3 separate regions of the Homo sapiens genome follow, and all the other regions are linked to region 1. The links come from fine-mapping of genetic effects on gene expression. A gene starts in region 1. Each other region holds a variant in brackets. All regions are shown on one strand. Distances are between the middles of the regions. Region 1 holds the start of SYNRG (synergin gamma). Region 2 overlaps SYNRG (synergin gamma). Region 3 overlaps SYNRG (synergin gamma).

The links.
Region 2: its variant is fine-mapped to the expression of SYNRG in unexposed skin (GTEx, PIP above 0.99). The same link has a PIP of 0.9 or more in aorta, esophagus muscle, lung, monocytes, pancreas and sigmoid colon.
Region 3: its variant is fine-mapped to the expression of SYNRG in whole blood (TOPMed, PIP above 0.99).

What each region holds. Positions count from the first base shown.
Region 1 is chr17:37,606,323-37,611,549 of GRCh38, forward strand. It overlaps SYNRG (synergin gamma), which reads right to left and starts at 3,096. Exons shown (of 22, transcript NM_007247.6): 1 at 2,957-3,096. The coding sequence starts at 3,033. It overlaps DDX52 (DExD-box helicase 52), which reads right to left. Exons shown (of 15, transcript NM_007010.5): 15 at 3,417-5,227.
Region 2 is chr17:37,536,940-37,542,166 of GRCh38, forward strand. SYNRG (synergin gamma) reads right to left here. Exons shown (of 22, transcript NM_007247.6): 15 at 5,033-5,227; 16 at 3,441-3,604; 17 at 2,253-2,306; 18 at 1,385-1,481. Among named protein-coding and RNA genes, the nearest start is that of DUSP14, 50 kb to the left of the region's middle. RefSeq lists an enhancer at 4,744-5,227. The variant T/A (reference allele first, on the strand shown) is at 2,100.
Region 3 is chr17:37,522,926-37,528,152 of GRCh38, forward strand. All of the region lies in intron 19 of SYNRG (synergin gamma), which reads right to left. Among named protein-coding and RNA genes, the nearest start is that of DUSP14, 36 kb to the left of the region's middle. The variant G/A (reference allele first, on the strand shown) is at 3,061.

The DNA of each region.
Region 1 (5,227 bases):
CCACAAATATTTACAGAATGTTTTTTATGTGCAAAAATGTGCTAGAAGCAGTGAAAGAAGAAAAGATGAGGAAGCCCTCTAAAAGCTTGTAAAAGATCAGGAAAAAATAGACAAGTTCACAGATGATAACATCCCAGAAGAACGTGACCTCTTTGTTCCACTTTACTTTGTACCACAGTTATTTTGTACATTCTCCAAGGATGGGGACCATGTTTTGATGTCTTTTTAATTCATTACAGCATCAAGAACAGTACCTTACCCATGTAAGCATTCAATGACTACAGACTAATCCAGATCTTTCAACTCTTTTTTTTTTCTGCCTTGATTAAAGAAAAAAAAAATTTATACTTCTCATCTCTTGGGCAAATTTTGCCCTTTATACAACTCTACCATTTATTCTAAAGTAGCTCATCCAGGACACCAATCAAAAGTAGGGTAATATTAAATTTGGAAAACGTTATTGTGTTTTGCTTAGCCTCTTAGAATATAGAGAAGTATCTAAACAATACAGTCAGTTATAGTTCATGGATTTTCTCCATTAAAGGTGTAGAGAAGTTGCCTGTTTTTTTTCTTCAAATATACTTAGGTTGCCATAATGTTAAGTTTCCTTATAAAATAATTTCAGGGAGGGTGGGTGGCAAAAAGAAAATTAAAAAGGAAATAAAATAACTTCAGCCTTTACACCATTACTCTCTAAAAAAAATAATATTCCTTTTTCTATTGAGGATACAGCTTCTCAGCCTCAGAAAGTTGCCAATATATGTAACATATGTACCATACATTTTTCAAGGTAAGAATCATTTTAACCACTTCTTTCTCTCCTGTATATCGTTTACAGTTTTAGAATGCAGATGTTGCTACATTTACAAAGGGGGGAAATTTTAAAATCATTCTAATTTCTATCAAAATTCAACCCATATTTATTTTAAAAATTTGTGTCCATGGACCAATGATACTCAAATACTGCAAACTAAAGGGAATAATGCACTTGAATTTCTGAACCTGAGGTCCTCCCCATCCAAAAACATTTTTTAAGTAAATAAAAATTTGGGCCTAGATATCAATTCTTCTAAGTTTACATTTTCCCAGAACTTGGTGCCATGATTAATCATATACTTGATCAAATTAATACCATCCAGGGACATTTTAGAAACTGTAATCACATATAGGAAATAAATAGAGGATGCCGGGCGTGGTGACTCAAGCCTGTAATTCTAGAACTTTGGGAGGCCAAGGTGGGCGGATCACTTGAGGCCAGGAGTTTGAGACCAGCCTGGCTAACATGGTGAAACCCCGTCTCTACTAAAAATACAGAAATTAGCTGGGCGTGGTGGCGCACGCCTGTAATCCCAGCTACTTGGGAGGCTGAGGCAGAAGAATCGCTTGAACCCGGGAGGTCGAGGTTGCAGTGAGCCGACATCGTGCCACTGCACTCTAGCCTGGGTGACAGAACGAGACTCTGTCTCAATCGATCAATCAACAAAATTAGCCGGGCATGGTGGCGCGCACCTGTAATCCCAGCTGCTCCGAGGCTGAGGCAAGAGAATCGCTTGGACCCAGGAGGCAGAGGTTGCAGCGGGTCGAGATCACGCCGCCGCACTCTGGCCTGGGCAACAGAGCAAGACTTCCTCTCAAAAAAAAAAAAAAAAAAAAAAAAACAAGACAAAAGAAAAAGAAAAAACAAATAGAAGGGAATTATTACATATGTTTCTTCTCCAGCCAGAAACTGGCTTACACGAAGTATTTATTTTTTAAAAAACCCTCTAATGAAACAACGGAGAGAACAAAAGAGAAAGCAAAAAGTTTAAAAATCTAAAGTTAAAGATGTGCAGAGGAAATGAAAAATGGGGTTACACACAGGTGGTTTATTGAACAGCCACTGCTCGTTTCCTGACAAGCACCTGCAAGAGGTGATAACTTTAAGGTCCTTACACTTTTGTAGTGTTCACGACTCCGAAATTGAAACACTGCATATAAAAAAAAAACCTAACACTTCGTTTTCCAAAGACAATTTAGGATACTGAAGATGCAAAGCTACTTTTACCTCCAAATGTGTGTGCTGTTGTGTGTTGGTTAGTAAAACAAAATCAGACTAGGTCATTATAGAAGTGGAGTGAAAACTTCCTAGAATAAAATATTTCCTTAAATGATAACGAATCTGTCAGCTTGTAAAACGTACATCTCCCTTACCATTCTGGGTATAAGAACCACGGCAGTTCTTGGCTGAAATGTGGCAGAGGGCAGATTTGTTTAAGGGCTGAGTCTGGAAGCTTTGTTCTAATAAATGCGCAACTGCTGTTTAACAGTGCACTTTCTTTGTTTTTAAATGCCTTTTTAAAAAGAAGACAGACAAGTCTTAAGAGTTAGTGTACAAGACAAGAACTCTATCTCAAGACCATTACTAATTCAGAGGTCTTTAGATGTTCCTGCTGTTTGTCGCGGGTTAAGGAAATAAAGAGGACAGGACACTCTAAAAGGGGAAGAGACAAATAGTCCACACACACACCCCCCTTGGAAACAGTCCTCCAGCTTTGTGAACAGATTTTTAAAGCCCTCCCTCCAACATATCCGGTTAAGTCTAGAAAGCCCAAGGAAAGGGAAGACCCTGGTCGCTTCAGAGGCAGCTAGGACTAGGAGCGGAGTCGCGGTTCCTGATTTGCCCCGCCCCCCCCCACCCCAAGAGGACCCTCATCTTCTCTCCCCTCCCACACTGGGCGCGCGCTCGCTCCCCGCTCGATTCCAGGCGGCCGGCGCCCCCAACTGATCCCGGAACACCAGCGTCCAGCACCTGGGCTCCACACGCCCCTTTCGGCCTGGGTCCCTGGGGGATGACCCTCCTCCCGCAGCCCAGTTCCAAGGAAAAGGATCAGGGCTGGAGAAAACTGCCATAACTGCCAAGCGCCCCTCGCCGCCCCCGCGGAGGCCAGCGGGCTCCCGCCCGGCTCTTCACACCTACCCGCCTCCCCCGGCGGACCCCGCGCCAGCTCCCGCGGCCCCGCCGCCACCAGAACCAGCTCCTGGCCGCAGCGCCATCTTGCTCCCGACCTGCCGCTGCCTTCGCCGCCGCCACCTTATCAGCAGCTGTCAGCTGAACACAGCCACTTCCGGGTCAAACACCAGGCCCCACCTCGCCGCGGACCGGGCGATGGGGCGGGGCCTCGCGCCCACGTGACTCCCCCGGCCCTCGGGGAGGCGTGGCGCGCCCACGGCACGTGACCCGGCGCCGCAGGGGTCCCCCAGATTCAATTCTAGCTCTCGGGCTGGTGGGGCGGTCGCGGGCGCCTCTCCAAGGGAGCTGATTCATTGTCTGGTAGGCCCTCTGCAGGGCCCAGCTGGCGGCCCAGTGGCAAAGCGCCGTTGGTCCTCCGTTTGAAAACCATGATCGCGGTTAGTGGAAAGAGTAGGCTGAGTCCTGATTTTTAAACTATACGGTGGGTACACTGGTGTTCTTTTATTGTTACTCTTTACACACAAAGAACAGATAGGTCCTGAAGGGCCCTTTGATAGTCTCGCAGCACTGATGAGTGATCAGCTCTCCCCTCTTTCTCTGGAACTCGGTAGCTTCATGTTGGCACCTATCACAGACGCTGAAGGCATTTAAATTTTATTTTAAATCAACCAAGAGCCCAAAAACCCAACCCATATTTCGAAAAAACTCCAAGGTGTACTACTCTTGTTTGGTTCTGCCATCCTGCCACCTTACAGTCCTTTTGTTTTTCCTATTCTTGCAGGCAAGTGCAAAACAGTGGTTTTTGGAAGGCAATTCATAATTACTCTGAAGCTATTTCGGCATATTTTTTACTGATTTTTTTTTTTTTTGAGACAGGGTCTTGCTCTGTTGTCCAGGCTGGAGTGCAGTGGCATGATCATGGCTCACAGCAGCCTCAGCCTCCCTGGCTCAAGCGATCCTCTCGCCTCAGCCTCCTGAGTAGCTGGGACCACAGGCATGCACCACCACACCGGGCCAATTTTTTTTTTTTTTTTTTTTTTTTTTTTTGTAGAGATAGGATCTATGTTGCCCAGGCTAGTTTCAAACTGCTAGGCTCAAGCTATGCTCCCACCTCGGCCTCCAAGTGCCAGGGTGTGAGCCACATGCCTGGGCTGTGATTTTTTTTTTTCTTTTAATCAAACTACTGTCTGGAAGTAAAACATGAAAGTTGAGTAATTTTCTCAAGCACGTAGTTTGCTTGCTAACAAGTAATGGATTAATTAGCTTTACGTTTTCACTCTTGTCTCAAGGTTTTTACTGGGTAATAATTTGTAATAAGTTATTAGGCACAAACCACTGGTCAGGAACTGTACACGCATTTTAAAAAATCCTCAGTATCCTTAGGAGTTACAATTGGCATCTTACAGATGAGAAAATCAAGGTTAGAAACAGTTACTGTCATTTGTCCAGATCATACAGCTACAAGCAATGAGGATCAGGATTCAAATCCAGGCCAGTTTGACTCTAAAGTCCTTGCTCATTTCACCAGAGCCAGCTATTCAATTTTTATGTTTTTTCTTTTGCTGTAACTGCCTGTTCACTAATTTCACTCCTTCCCTTCCTTGTGTGAAGCTGAAATTTATGTAGCACATAGTTCCAACTGCTTTGAAGGAGCTAAATTTAGTATTAATACACTGACTAAGTTGATACAGGTTACTGTAGATACTTTAAACAGACACAATAAAGTCAAGGATCATAGATGTGACCTCAGTTTGTCCTGGAATCCTTTTTGTTCCTCTTCTTTGCCTATTGGTTTTTACATTTGCAGGATTCAACTCAGGATGTCGGCCTTCCATGACATCCCCAATCTGGGTTAGATGCCCTCTTGTGATGCTTTAGCATCATGGCCTTACATCTAACAGAGCACTTGCCACACTAGTCATGTGCTACATGATGATGTTTTGGTCAGCCACAGACAGCAGATACAATGGTGGGATGAGAAGTGGGGGTGGAAGACAGTGAGACTGATGATCCTGACCTTTTGTATGCCTAGCATAATGTGTGTGTTTGTGCCATGGTTTTTAACAAAAAAGTTTTAGAAGTAAATAGTAAAACAAAACAAACAAACAAAAATTAATAGAAAAAAAGCTTCTAGAATAAGGATATAAAGAAATAAAGTATTTTTCTACAGCTGTACATTTGCATTTTAGGCTAAGTGTTATGACAAGAATCAAAAAAGTTTATAAAGGCCGGATATAGTGGCTCACTCCAGGTCAGGAGTTTGAGACCAGCCTGGCC
Region 2 (5,227 bases), 69 kb before region 1:
CTCAGCAGCCCTGTGTCAGCACTACGGCTTTTCTTCTTCCTTTCCCAAGAGAGGGGCAGAAATTACTGCCCACCCTAAGCCAAGTGAGGGGGCTTCTAAGAGAATCTTCCATAGATACAAGGATACTAGGAGAAAAGACAGGTGCCCCATTTCCTGGTGGACATCTGCTTATGCAGAACTGTGCCTGTTTGAGCAGGAAAAGAAGACCCCAAGTGAGGTGGCAGGAGTAAGGCAGAGACTACATCCCTTCACTCTCCACTCATCCAGCAAATATTTTTGAGTGCCAACTACGTGCAAGACACTAGATTAGGTGTTGGGGACACACCAGTGAACAAAACAGACCAAAATCCTTGCCTTCTTGGAGGTTCATTCTAGTGAAGGGAGACAGAGAGTAAAAACAACAAGTAGCTAGGTGCAGTGGCTCACGCCTGTGATCCCAGCACTTCGGGAGGCCAAGGTGGGTGGGTCGCTTGAGCTCAGGAGTTCGAGACCAGCCTGGGCAACATGGCGGAAACCTGTCTCTACAAAAACTACAAAAATTAGCTGGGTGCATGGTGGTGCACACCTGTGGTTCCAGCTACTTGGGAGGCTGAGGTGGGATGATTGCTTGCGCCTGGGAGGTGGACGCTGCAGTGAGTCATGACTACATCACTACACTCCAACCTGGGTGACAGAGTGTGAACCTGTCTTAAAAAAGAAAAGAAAAGAAAAGAATAATAAGTAACATATGTAAGAAATTAAAGGTAATAGGGCTAAGGAGAAAATCCAGCAGAGAATGGGATGGGAAGTACCGGGGTAGGGAGAGACGATACTCTTTGGAGAGATGGATGCTAGGAAAGATTTCACTCAGAAGCTGACATTTGAGTAAAGATTTGAAAAAGATTAGGGTCCAGCATGTGTGGCTCTGGCCACGGGCCAAGCCTGAGCTTGGGGAAGGGAGGAACACCGAAGTGGACAGAGACTACACTTTCCCGTTGGACTGACACATCAAATTGCTGCAGATGGCCAGGAGGTTAAGGACTCTGTGGTGTCATTAAGCGGTCGAGAGAAAGAATATAGAGTATGGTAAGGAATTGATGGGAGACAAGATGATTTTACTTTAGTGCATCGGTAGTTCAGATTCTTTGATAAACCAGTAACACAGATATAATTTTACATTTTTGCTATTACGTATATAACAAGGATGAGGAAACTTAGCCATAGAGACTTTTTAATTAAGTCCAATAGTTTACTGCCTGTAGCTTGAGTGTCTTACCCACAAATACAGATGCTTCTTACTGAAGTCATATGTAACTTGAGAGATCTAGCTTAAAATAATTAAAGGGAAAACTGAAAATAATGCAAAGGGCCATCATTTTCAATAGTAAAATATGAAAGAACATACCTAATAAATATTCCATGCCTTGAGCTGACTGAATTACTTCTGTGCAAACAGAACTACTACTGATTCCATTTAAGGTATCATTTGCCTTCTTAATGACCTACAAGAAATGAAATCACATCACCTTACATAACTGAGAAAAGTCATTGCAAATCAATTTACTATTAGTAGAAAACCCAACCGAAAAGCCAGGAGGTGTCAAAAAATCTCATTTTATCCTTGAAGAAACAATCCTCCATTTCTCTGGAAGAGAAAATATGTTTTTTTCCTTTTGTTTTGTTTTGCTTTGTTTTGAGACGGAGTCTCGCTCTGTAGCACAGGTTGGAGTGCAGTGGCAAGATCTCGGCTCACTGAACCCCTGACTCCCGGGTTCAAGTGATTCTCCTGCCTCAGTTTCCTGAGTAGCTGAGATTACAGGCACGTGCCACCACGCCTGGCTAATTTTTGCATTTTTAGTAGAGACAGGGTTTCACCATGTTGGTCAGGCTGGTCTCAAACTCCTGACCTCGTGATCCGCCCGCCTTGGCCTCCCAAAGTGCTGGGATTATAGGTGTTGAGCCACCGCACCCAGCCAAGACAGGTTCTTTAGCTTAAATATTATTTTGATTTAGTCAGAGTTAATGAAATCACTTTGTTATTTCTTAAACACAATGACAGATGAGGGGATGACTGACACATGAGCCGGTCTGCTATTGTAAGTGTGAAAGAAGCCTCACCT[T/A]AGATGCATGACTTCCACAGAGTTACTCTTTGCCCAGGGACATCCAAGTAAGGCTCTCCTGAAGTTTGCCTCTGTCAATTCAAATGAACCAAGAAGGCAAAAAGGCACAAAAGAGCACTCACATATGTGTGAACGCGTAAGTGACATACTCACATTCAGGGCACTCCCCAGGCATCTCTGCCATTCATATGCATATCTCTCATTTTCCTGTGAATTTGTTAAAAAGAACTGGGTTAAACACACAAACCTGGAATCTTCTATTGATGACTCTGTCAATTCAAAGTGCTTGGAGGACTTTCCTTTTTATTACGATCACTCTAGTTCAAGCAGTTTATGTTTTTTTTGTTTTTGTTTTTGTTTTGAGATAGGGTCTTGCTCTGTTGCCCAGGCTGAAGTGCAGTGGCATGATTTCTGCTCACTGCACTGGACGCAAGCAATCCTCCCACCTCAGCCTCCAGAGCAGCTGGGACTACAGGCACGCACCACCACATGAGGCTAATTTTTGTATTTTTGGTAGAGGTGGGGTTTCACCATGTTGCTCAGGCTTGTCTTGAACTCCTGAGCTCGAGTGATCTGCCCGACTTGGCCTTCCAAAGTGCTGAGATTACAGGCATGAGCCACCATGCCCAGCCGCAGTTTATCTTTTTGAACTCACTAATAACTATGTTAAATTACTAATAAATGTAACTTCTGAGCACAGGACCTGTGAGTCTAAGGGACATGCTTTCCAGCAGCTTCCCCCTGTGAGTGTTGCCTCATTTGTTCCATCAGTAACAGTGTAAGCCTTTCTTCGGAGGCACTCAGCATGTAGCTATCTGGTACAGAAACTGCTATTAAGCCACTGGCTTTCCACGCCCCAGTTATAACGCTGTGTGGCTGTGTGTGAGGACGTGGCCCATGTGCACATGTAACAAGGAGTAGGGAAAGGTGGGAAATTAAGTGTGTTGACCATAGGAGGAACATAGCGTGGCACTAAGATGCAGCAGACAGAAATAAAAAATTCAGAATATTTTCCCTGTCTCCTCTATTTTGAGGTTTCATGAAGACAATAAAGTCTAAGTGCTCAAGAAGAATTATACAAACACTGCCATCCTTGTGAAGTCCCATGAATAGTTTTGGTTTTAGGGTCACTGATTAGTTTCAGTGGGTGCCACACCTGGGAAATGTTTTCACCCAGGGCTAATGTTACCCTTGCCTCACTTTAATTACATAGTTTATGTCTGGTGCTTTGTGTCTTTCTGCCCCTCATTTTCCCCATGTGAAAGCTGACAGCATTCTTTCTTGGGGCCCTGTGTGCTTGCTGGTCTGTTACCCACCCCTTGTAGAAAGCTCTCCTCTCACCTCCACCTCTCCCGTCAGGTCTTTGTACTTGTCTCGGATGACGGGCAGGGCGGGCTTCTCATTCAGAGTATTGGAACGGTCTCTGAAAGGCTGCTCCAAAGCTGGAGAAGGAGAAGAACGGCTTATTTCTTTATCACCAAGGCTCAAACTCCTCTTGTGTGATCCTGGGAGAAGGGGATAATACAGTCAAAGGTTTTGGCTACTCACCTTAGTTCAGGCAGAGGCTCTTCCTCGCTACCACAACCCTCTTCTTTTTTTTTTTTTTTTTTTTTTGAGACAGATTCTTGCTCTGTCGCTCAGACTGGAGTACGGTGGTGTGATCTCGGCTCAGTGCAACCTCCGCCTCCTGGGTTCAAGCAATTCTCCTGCCTCAGCCTCCTGAGTAGCTGGGACTACAGGTGCACACCATCATGCCTGGCTAATTTTTGTATTTTTAGTAGATACACGGTTTCATTGTGTTGGCCAGGCTGGTCTCGAACTCCTGATCTCAAGTTATCTGCCTGCCTCCCCTCCCAAAGCGTTGAGATTACAGGTGTGAGCCACCGCGCCCAGCCCACGACCCTCTTCTTCAGATGCTTATGTCATGAGGCATTCACAAACACATTCCTCATTCATTCTTTCTGGGAAGCTACATGTTAAATCTTTTCTACTGTTCTCTCTTGCACGGTTTCCCTGCGTTTCGTTTTCAACATGACTCTTCTCTGATCTATCACAAGTCTTCCATAATGCCCAGTGCAGAATCACTGGAGTCTGGAGAACAAAAGCACCTTTCTAAATATCAGTATGTAAGAGTTGTGTGGCTTTTCCAGTCATTTGTTATGGATTTGTAACCGAGTTCCTTCACAGTCTCTCAATCCAGTTGAAATCAACGACCCCTCCTGTCAGGATGAGATTAAAGCAGAAGAGGCAAACTCAAATGCCTTCAGAGACCAGGCAAGTAAAGTGAACAACTTAAGTAGGTCCGCTGAGACAGGAAGCGGTGGGGATTATGGTAGGAGAGAGAGAATGACCCACCTACAGGGAGTGGTGCTCTTCGGCTCCAGCTGCCAACATATGGGACTGTAGACCTACTAGTGCCAGATATTATGACTTCTCAAGAAAAGTTGGAAATCCAGATTGGGAAATCTCATGTCTTTTAAATACTGGCAATTACTTCGTACTTAAAAATCTTTTGTGTGGGTCAATGTGATATGCAGGCTAGATGCAGATCCCCGGCCCCCACTTTGCAACCTTTGGATTAAAAGACATTATCTGTGCTCAGGGAACATGAGCGGAGCTAATGTGCCTACAAGTGGCTCGAATCCATTTATCTGGCTCTTTTAACACAGCACACCTCTAACCAAACGAGCTAATGAGCAATACCTGCATGCTGTGCTTGTTTTTAGCCCATAAAGCAGTTATCTGAGGGATGCTGATTTTGACTCCCGTCTCAGGGAAATCTTTATTATAGCTATCTGTAATTGACCCTGATTTCAAAGATTAGAACAATCTATTTCCTGCGAAACCAGAGAGCAACATTTTATTCTTAAGAACATCTAACATCTCAGTGGAAAAAAACCACAATAGTAAAATCTACCTTGGAAGCTACTCACCTTGAACAGAAAGGTCAAAGGTTGCCAGCTCACTTTTGATCATTTCTTCACTGGATTTCATTTTGCTTTGTGAAGTGGCTACTAAGAAGTCAAATTTGCTGATTTTGGGCTTTTCACTTTGAAACTCTCCAAAGTCATCCGAACATTCGTTCGGGGTTTCTTGAGAGGCACCACTGGACGCTGGGCTGGGACACG
Region 3 (5,227 bases), 83 kb before region 1:
ACCGTGCCTGGCCACACACTTTTAAGTTTAATCTGCACTAATAACATTTTCTCCATCACTTTTTAGCACTGAGGACATCCCTCAGTCCTGACCAAACAGGGACAGTTGGTTGCCCTGTGATAGACATAAATAACCCTGAAAGCTAGACAAGAGTAAAATTTAAGAACTAGAATGTTTTAAGTATTACCACTATTTTTAATATAATATATGTAACTGCAAGTTTATATCATTTGTGTTTTGTCTTGCTTTTGAGATAGAATCTCACTCTGTCACCCAGGGTGGAGTGCAGGGGCGTGTGTGATCATGGCTCACTGCAGCCTCAAACTCTTGGGATCAAGCAATCCTTTTGCCTCAGCCTCCTGAGTAGCTGGGACTACAGGTGTGTGCCACTACACCTGGCTACTTTTTATTTTTAGTAGAGATGAGGTCTCGCTATGTTGCCCAGGCTGGTCTAGAACTTCTGGCCTCAAGCAATCCTCCCACCTCAGCTTTCCAAAGTGTTGGAATTAGAGGCATGAGCCACTGCACCCAGTCTTCATTTAATTTTTAGTAATAACGGTGTTTAACAACTGGCTCATAAAATTCCTGAACATTTAACAATCCACTCTTGCAAGCCAGTAAGAACTGGATTTAACACACTAGTGCGACAGAATGGAATCTCAGGTGGGAGCCTAGAAGTTGAGGAGTTCCTCTCAGAGGGCTCATCCTCACTCTAATGCAGGAGGTGAGATCATCAGCTGTGTCTGAAATAGCAGTAGCCTTGTGAGCTCCAAGCAGCAAACTCTGGAGGTGTGATTGTCTCCACCAGCACACAGTGGGTCAAGGTGGGGGGAGAAGGTGGATGGCTGCACTGATTCCAGTTGGGTTTGGTCTAATGAGTATGACTGAAGGGAGTGAGGAGGGATGCCCCATGCACTGTGGAGAGTAAGGAGGTGAGAAAAGAAGTGAAGACAGAAGAGGGCTGACAGGAACACAGTAAAAGAGACAACATCCTGTCTTGAGAACCAAAAACAAGAGCAGTGCCAGTGAAGAGTGAGACAACGGGAGGGTCGCCAATCTGGACTCAGGAAGTTCGATGTCGGGGCTCGAGACTGCACAGGCGCTGCACAATGTTTGCTAACACAGCCCATCGTGGTGATGCCAGTGGGTGGCTGAAGTGCAGGGGAAGCGAGGGCTCTGTGGGCCAGGCAGTCAAGCATCTGGGAGCCTGGCATGGCAGTTGGTTTGTCTTCATGGATACTGAGGTGACCCAGGATGATGGCAAATTCCTGCCAAATTAACAGCTACATTTCCCATAGTTCTTCCAGTCTGAACCACTGAGGAGTTTCCACGTCGTTTTTGAGCAACAAAGCAAAATTATATGATCTGTATTTTTCCTCACCAGGAAAAAAAAAGATTTCTCCTTATAAAAATGTGTAGATTATGTATGATGTTCCCTGTTCCTTTCTAATTTGAAATAATAAACCATGAACTAGCTCCACAAATCTTTCTTAAACACATTTGAGCTAGATCCACTGAGATCACAGCAGGGGAAGGAAGAACACACGGTTTTCAGAGAAGAAAAGGTGAGGTGTATGTTTCAACTGTGTGCAAAAGGACTCTGGTGTAGGTGATCAAAGTAAACTTACATGGCCTTAGCCAAGTCATAGGATATTTTTTCTTTTCTCTCTTTTCTTTTGTAGTGCAACTGTGGTCACTCTGGTCAAATGTGGAAGACGCTGGTGCTAACGCTTGTTCTGCAGTCAGTCATCTGTAAAATGGTAACTATTTCACTTGCCCTACACCTCTCTCCCATTTCTATATATCTCAGATGGACATAAAACATGCTCTGGAAGTGAAAAGTAGTCTATATGATGATCACAATTATTCACTTTGACGAACTCTTAGCAAGCTTTTAAAAGAGGTTAAAACATAGTATCATCTCTGTAATCCACATTACAGATAGTCATCATGTTACTGAATCAGGGCTATTTGAGAAATAATTAGAATCTGGGAAAACTCTGAATCCTGAAATCAATCAAATTAATAGAAGCCCCTTAATATCTGTTTACCAAAGGCATAAGGAAAGCAAATGAAAAGATCATACTGTAATCGCCAATGAAAACCATAAGGCTCTGCATAAATGACCCTGTGATCAAATTACTCTTTCAGCTGACAAAATTAACCTTCTTAAGTACACATGTATAAACAGGGTGTTTATTGTAGTGTAATATTAACAGTTTGGCACCAATCATATAAGATAACAGTTTGGCTGTCATCATATAAGAAGGTATGCCCTCTACAAGTCACCTTAAATTGATCATCTCCTTATTTGGCAAGTATTTCATGCATTTAGTTAAGATTTAAAAAAATATATACATATTATATATGGCCTACTGACACTGATAAGTCCCAATGTCAGACTGAGATATATAATCCTGAATCTTTAGCCTACAATAAACTGCTACAATGGTGTCCAGGAAGATCCTTATTAAGGAAGAAGAGTTTGGTAGTAATTAGTGTTCTTCACCAATAATCTTTCTCCTTTTTATGGAATGGTAGGATGGGCCTTCCCTGCCCCTTTTTCAATCAGGCATTGGCCTGTAACTTGCCACAGTCAATAACTAAGCAAAAGTCACACGTAAGCCGGGAGTATGGTGGCTCACACCTGTAACCCCAGCACTTTGGGAGGCCGAGGTGGGTGGATCACCTGAGGTCAGGAGTTCAAGACCAGCCTGGCCAACATGGCAAAGCCCCGTCTCTACTAAAAATACAAAAAAATGCCGGGAGCGGTGGCTCACACCTGTAATCTCAGCACTTTGGGAGGCCAAGGCGGGCGGATCACGAGGTCAGGCTTTGGAGACCAGCCTGGCCAACATGGTGAAACCCCGTCTCTACTAAAAATACAAAAATTAGCCAGGTGTGGTGGCGCTTGCCTGTAATCCCAGCTATTCAGGAGGCTGAGGCAGGAGAATTGCTTGAACCCAGGAGGTGGAGGTTGAAGTGAGCCAAGATCGCGCCATTGCACTCCAGCCTGGGCAACAGAGCGAGACTCCGTCTCAAAAACAAAACAAAACAATT[G/A]GCCGGACGTGGTGGCGGGTGCCTGTAATCCCAGCTATTTGGGAAGCTGAGGTAGGAGAATAGCTTGAACCCAAGAGATGGAGGCTGCAGTGAGCTGAGATTGCACCACTGCACTCCAGCCTGGGCAACAGAGGAAGATGCCATCTCAAAAAAAAAAAAAGAGTGTCACCTCTGGGAAGAAGCCTTTAAGACCAATGTGCTATTTCTCATGTTTCCTTGACACTCCCACGGTGACCAGCTATGTTCCACATGGTGGAGGCTCTGTCAACCTGGGTCCCTGGGTAAGGACATGGCACAGAGCCCCCCACCAACTTGAGATGGACACATAGCCTGAGCAAGAAATAAAGCTTTGCTTTTGCTAAGATAGAAGAAACTATTTGTTACTGAAGCATAACCTAGTCTAATTTGACTGATACAAAGGGTGATCTAGACACAGGTTCCATAGGCAATTATAAAGTTTTGGTATTTGCTTGGTTACAATGTCTTGTATAATCTTTCCTATTGCTGCTGTAACAAAGCACAAACTTAATGGCTTAAAACAACATAAATGTATCCTCTTACAGTTGTGGATTTCAGAAGTCTAAAATGGGTGAGAAGGACTGCATTCCTTCTAGGAGTTCTAGGGGAAAATCTGTTTCCTTGCCTTTTCTAGCTTCTAGGGACGACCTCTACATTCCCTGACTTGTGGTCCCATCTTCAAAGCCAGCAGGTAGCATCTGCCACTCTCTTCTTCTCTCTGCTTCTGTTGTCACATCACTTTTTCTCACTCTTCCCCTCCTACCTTCCCCTTCTAAGGATCCATGTGATGACATTGGGGTCACCTGGATAATCCAGGATACCTTCCCCAAAGAAAGGCCTTTAACTTAATCCCATTTGCAAAGGTAACATATTGACAAGTTCCCAGGACATGGGTAGCTTTGAGGGGGCCATCATTCTGTCTACCACAGCTGCCTTCTGTCAACTGAGGACAGCCATGCAGAGACATAGTAAAGATCCTGTCTCTAAAACATTGTGCAGACTGGCAAGATGACAAAAATGCTATCACCATTGAAAATAAACTGTTCTCCTGATATGTCACAGCAATAGGAAATAAGGACTCTGAAATTCACTGGTCAATTTCACATTGAAAGGAAGTAGTAAAGAATTCATATTTCACTGAGGTGAACAGTGGAATCAGAGAGCCTGTATGATTGCCAGTTGACTAAAATTCAGGCGAATAACAACCTTTTCTCTTCTCTTAGATTTTATATGGCAAAAATCGATTAATTTTCCAGGACAGAATTCTCTGTTTGTTCCAAACCTACTGAACTTCAACCCACTTCACAAGATAAAACCTTAGATGACAAGTCACTTGGGAGCCAATCTCAGAGTGCATCACATCTCACTAAACCAGGTGAGTTTCACCTCTTGAGAAAGAAGCAGGCCTTCAGTCTGTGCCTGGAGGAGACATGCTTCTACCACAAGAGGGAGTCTTAGTCCATGGATAAAGAGTATCAAAGAGAAAGAGAGCATAAAGCTTTGCCAGTACAGTCAGCCCTCGGTATCCATGGGTTCCACATCTGTGGGTTCAACCAACCTCAGATCAAAAATATTCGGAGGAAAAAATAGAAAAAAACAAAAATGATACAAATAAAAAAATCCAATACATATAATAACTATTTACGCAGCATTTACATTGTATTAGGTGTTATAAGTAATCTAGAGATTCTTTAAAATACACAGGAGGATGTGCATAGGTTATATGCAAATCCTATGCCATTTCTTATCAGGAACTCGAACGTCTGCAGATTTTTATATCCAGAAATGGGGGATGTCCTGGAACCAATTCCCCCCCCATGGACAGGGGAATGACTGTGTCATTTCCAGCTTAAATAAACATCAAGGAGCCACAATTTGGAGTTTAAGACGGTGTACCCTGCCTTCCTTAGCCCAAGCATGACTACTGTGATGCCGCACTACATTCTGTGACTTTCACTGGAGAAAGTGATGCAGCTGTCTTCCGATAGGAACAGCCTCACAGAGTCTTCATGGGAAGAAATAAGTCATTTTCAGTAACTTAAAAGCTGGAAGTAACATAGAGTAGGAAGAAGAATGGACTCTGAAATGATACAGATTCAAATCACAGACTTGTCAGTTTCAGTCAAGTTTCATCTTCTCAAAGCCCTAA